Homo sapiens: one gene and its partner. The protein of the gene in region 1 purifies or fractionates together with the protein of each later gene. This does not show direct contact. Each region holds a gene or a part of one and is shown on either strand. Other genes may lie near its edges.

The links.
Region 2: the proteins of NFYB (region 1) and HMGA2 fractionate together in Homo sapiens (co-fractionation; one large-scale study listed by BioGRID). This does not show direct contact.

Annotation. Positions count from the first base shown.
Region 1 is NC_000012.12:104,116,586-104,118,898, forward strand, and holds the end of NFYB (nuclear transcription factor Y subunit beta), read right to left. Parts: 3' UTR 501-2,313; downstream 1-500. UniProt on the Homo sapiens protein: Component of the sequence-specific heterotrimeric transcription factor (NF-Y) which specifically recognizes a 5'-CCAAT-3' box motif found in the promoters of its target genes.
Region 2 is NC_000012.12:65,960,483-65,963,636, forward strand, and holds part of HMGA2 (high mobility group protein HMGI-C), read left to right. Parts: intron 1-2,762; coding exon 2,763-2,810; 3' UTR 2,811-3,154.

The sequences.
Region 1 (2,313 bases):
AAAATATTTTTTAAAAATCTTGCATTGCAAGATTTCATTCTTAGCAAATGGGAGAAACTATTCTTTCCACTTTTCATGCCTAATTTCTACTGCTGTAGAAGTCCTTTTAATTGGGCCCTCATAACTATATTCAATTAGAATTATTAAAGTTAATTGGTACTCCTTTAACTCACTAAGACAACCCAGAAAACAGGCAATAAGGCATGTTTTTGAAGAAAGGAAAACACTGCACACATAATACAGTGTAGGAGGGGAAAAAAAATACAAATAGCTTCAAACACTGTCATATCTAAGTATGTGACATTTGGAAGGCAGCATTTAAAAAACAATCCTCATTGGACTCAAGAGGATTTTAAAGCATCTCCGTTAGAGTGAGGTAGTGAGGGGATAGATAGAAGCTATCTAAGATAGAAGCTACCTAAGTCCCCTTCTACTACCTGGAACTCACTCACGGAAACCCATTTCTCTCTTAGATACTCAAGAAAGCAATGTTTACAAAATTATAAAAAACATTTTTATGATAGGTTAACATGGGAGCTTGCATACATAAGAAGTTCCAGAGGAGAAAACATGACATTCAGTTAAATGCAACATGGGCCAAGGAAGACAGAGACCCCAGCTCTGACAAGCATAAATTAGGATATTATGCACCTGACACATTCAGAATGTCCATTTTCTTTCCCATCAGAGTATGAAGTCCAACAATGAAGTCAATACATAAAAAAGGTGACCTGATTTTACCTGGTGTAAAATTTTAGTTAGCACTACTAGCAAATTATGAAGTTTGGAAATTTGTTGTAGTATATACTAATTTAAAATTTACTCAAATTCCTGTTTGTTTGAGACAAGAGTCTTGCTGTGTCACCCAGGCTGGAGTGCAGTGGCGCGATCTCGGCTCACTTTAGGCTCTGCCTCCCAGGTTCAAGGGATAATGCCTCAGCCACCAGGGAGTAAGGGACTACAGGTGTGCACCACCACACCCTGCTAATTTTGTATTTTTTGTAGAGACGGGGGGTTCTCCATGTTGGCCAGGCTGGTCTCAAACTCCTGACCTCAAAGTGATCTGCCTGCCTTGGCCTCCCAAAGTGCTGGAATTATAGGCATGAGACACCCCATACCTGGCCTCAAATTCCTTTTTTATCTTCATTCTCTACTTGAACAAATATTAATCTTTAAAATAATTTTAGAGACAGTATCTGATAATCAAAGACCAAGTGCTTTTATCAGTTATATAGTGACACACTGCTTGGATCAAGTGGAAAATATCTCAAAAATACACTCATAACGAAGTATCAAAAGCCTTAAAATTTTGCATATTTGGTAACCCAGCAATTCAAAGAATTTAAGAAAACAGTCATGGATGTACATGGGATTCAGTGAAGTGCTGTTTATAACTGTGAAAAGATGTAAATAGTCAAAATATCCAATAGAAGATTAAATGAATTATGATTGAGTCATACAGCAGAATAATAAACCAATAAAAATGATGCAGAAGACTATGCATGACCTGGAAAAGATGTTCCCAATATATTGTTAAGTGAAAAAAGCAGGTTACAAAATGGTATGCACAATATGAGCCCATTTTTATAAAAATATACATATTTAGCAAAGTAAAAGGACAAATGATATTTATCAAAATATTAACATTGGTTCTTTCAACATAGTAGGATGACTGTTGATTTTGCTTAACTACTCCCCCATTTTTTCCTATTTGAATTTACTACAATGAAGTTTGTTTTTTAAATGGAGAGTAGGAGATGAGGACATTATTAACCTCTGATTAGCCCACATATACTCCTAAAGGCTCCTTCTGGCAAAGTAAATGTTTCTGTTCAGCCTATATCTGGGAAATTGCTTCTACCTTATAAATTTGAGTGTCCTTCAAAGATGATATTCACTCCAACTTCCTTTTAGGCAAACTATACAATAGCAATTTTTGATATTAAAAACTTAAAAAAGAAATCCCTCAAGTTAATTAACACCAAAAAGAATAGATGAGAAAATACAAATCCTCACTTTTCAAAAAGAAACAATCCAAGTACATACTACTAAATTATACAAAGTTACATTATTTACGTTTAGTTTATTGCAGAGATGAAGACAGCATACTAGAAGTTGGCTTCTATTTCACACCGTTCACAGCACTCACTCTGTTCTCCATTTCATCCACTCACCCATGCAAAAGGTCTGTACACGCAATGATGTCTGATGTTTCTTGGTTTCCATAGTGTAACAGGAAACTTGACATTTCAATTAAAAAGGTAAAATGAAGACATTTACCATCAGACTATAAAACTCCTCTTCTGTAAGAGA
Region 2 (3,154 bases), about 38 Mb from region 1:
CAAGTCACTGGGAAGGTGAGAGCTGAGGTTTGCAGAGGTGGGAAAAGCCACCTGCCCCACCACATCAACCCTTTGGGAACCATTCCTTCCTTTGAAGGGTGGCCAGCCAGGGCTATGCCAAGAAGAGAGAGCTCTCCACTAACTAGACATTTGAGAAAACCATCATTCTGAGCATGTGAGAGCCACATTGCCTCCAAACCTTTAATGAAGTGAGACTTCCACCCTCTGACATCCTAGTCATGTTCCCAGTACTAACTGATAGTTACTAGTAGAATTCTAAGGTCAGCAGAAAGATACATTAATAAAACAACTATCCACATTGTCTTATCCACATTGTCTTAAGGACAGTTAAGGAAACAATATGACCTACCACCATTTTCATCTGAATTGTGTCTAAAGGGTTGGAATTCAGGAGTTTCAGCAGCTCACATCAAGCAAAGTTTCTGGGAATGTTTTGAAAAGCTGATCACATTCCATCTAGTACAAGGTCTTTGTTAAGTTCATGGCCTGAAAATTCTGTTTCCTTCCGGATTTGAAAGTACCTTGGTTTCCGGATAGTATAGAAAAATCAAACAGTTAGAAATTGAATAATTACAGCACAATCCAGGAGGTTTGCCAGCTTGACTGAGTTCTATCAATTTTTTAACCGTAAGAAGGAATAAAATATACTTGCTGGCTTTTATGCCGTGGTCTGTTTCAGAGTAGTCACCTAAGTCCACACCTCATGTCAGAATGAGAAGTGAATCATCTGGGGACAAACGAGGTGTGTATCTGCCTAACAGCTTAGTGACTTTCTGGAATTTAAATATTAAGTGAAAGGACAGGGTCACAGGGCAGCTGATCTTTGGCTCGTCTCTCTTTCGTCTGCCCATGGCTTTGATCATGCTACATCCTCCTTTGTGGCCAGGGCTCCACAGAGAATCTCAGGGTCATGGCCTGTTGCCTAGTCAAGAGGTATAAACCTGCTGCTTAAATATGTGAAGCCCACAGTTTGGGGGTTGGGAGTTAAAGGGGAGGTAGCCTCATACGTTCCACTTTTCCCACAAAACCCAAAGCAGACTAAACAAAACCGGTGTGAAATCTCATGACTTGATGCTGCCGTGGTTATATTTTTCAAGCTGTAATCCATTCATTTGTATGTGTGTTTATTCCCAGGATTTACAGCTCGCTCAGTCTTCGGGGGGAAAGAGAATATTTGAAACCTTTTGCAAAGGGTTTGAAGTATGCAGTGGCCTGTGATTAAAGCCCAGGATAGAGTGTGTGTGTGTGTGTGTGTATGTGTGTGTGTGTGCATTCATGTGAATGTGTGAGTGCCCATTCTTGTGGGGTTTTTTTCTCCCATTTGCTGCTTTTACGCAAAAGCATCACACATGGTAGCATTTAGGAGCCCCTTCACAGCTGAAGTGTTTCAAACACTAATGAATGGAAGTTTGGTCATATAATGCAGACAAGCTTTAAGGCATGCTTTACTGAATGGTGTACTGTAGTGACCTGGGAAAGGAAGAGAGGTATAAATTGTGTCGGTTAGCCACCCAGACAAAATGAAGCCATGTGGAAAATCAAATCTATTAAAGTATGAAGACTGTTATAAGCTGTTTTAAGCTGGCCATTCTTAAAGGGGCTCGGTCTGCTGCAGGAGTAAATGTTTACCTCTTCCCCCAGATCTTTTTCACATGCCGTCTTATGAGACAATGTGCAGCATTTGATAAAAATCATCCTCTCACTAACGACGCTTTTATCGGAAATGTTTATTGTCTCCGCTTTACCACCCATGTCCTGAAAGGTACTGCACATTTGTTAAATAAGCAAAAGGAAAGAGAACTTTGCGGCTCAAGCCGGCTCGCAGAAACCCCAACAAATTCCAGAGCCATAAGGAATCAGAAAAAGGAAAAGGGAAGGAGGAGTTAGATTTATATGAAGAGGGGGCCTTGCAAAAACATATATATTAGATTTTCTCTGCTTGGCTAGCCCACCATCAAATGTTTGGTCGATGCGGATTAGTATTGAGATTGAGCAGTTAACGCCGAACTTGGGTCACTGTCTCAAAATGTGCTTTAATAAATACAAGGGGGAGGAAATGGATTTGGGAAGGCTCGTTGTCAGCTCTGCCCCTGCTCTCACACTGCCTCTGCACAGTGGTGTAGGGGTCACACACAGGTGTTGGCACCAGTACCAACCCGACCCAAATCCTGGTCCCACACACCCTGTAATTTTGGGCACATTACTTGTCTGTGCCTTGGTTTTCTCAGATGTAAAACAGGAATATTAACAGAAGGTGCCTAAGCATCTGGTAAGCACTCTAAAAATACCAGCTATTATTACCAGTATCTGGAGGGTGGGTTCATTTATACCTTAAGAAAGGATCCCCCTAACTCTATTTTTCTTGTGTGCCGGTTTTTAAAACTGATGAATGGCATGCTGTCGGGAAAAATTTATCCATTCCTACTTTTTTTCTAATTGGTGAGTAAGCGTGCATTGCCCTGACATTCTCTGGACAGCAAACAATTGAATTTGCTGACCAGCCGCCATGATGTCAAGCCTTAAGTCAACAGTGGCTAATGACCGCTCTGGGAAAAAACAACACCTTGATTCCTCAATTACGGTTTAAGAAGCCCTGGGAATGAGGGCTCGCCAGTCATCGTCATCCTCTTTTGAGGCAAGCATAATGTGCTGTGGAAACAGGTTACCTCTGCACTGTTGGCAAGAGCAGCCCACACAGTATAACGATTGAGCGTCATGGCTGTGCCCTTTGTGTGTTCCAGGAGGAAACTGAAGAGACATCCTCACAAGAGTCTGCCGAAGAGGACTAGGGGGCGCCAACGTTCGATTTCTACCTCAGCAGCAGTTGGATCTTTTGAAGGGAGAAGACACTGCAGTGACCACTTATTCTGTATTGCCATGGTCTTTCCACTTTCATCTGGGGTGGGGTGGGGTGGGGTGGGGGAGGGGGGGGTGGGGTGGGGAGAAATCACATAACCTTAAAAAGGACTATATTAATCACCTTCTTTGTAATCCCTTCACAGTCCCAGGTTTAGTGAAAAACTGCTGTAAACACAGGGGACACAGCTTAACAATGCAACTTTTAATTACTGTTTTCTTTTTTCTTAACCTACTAATAGTTTGTTGATCTGATAAGCAAGAGTGGGCGGGTGAG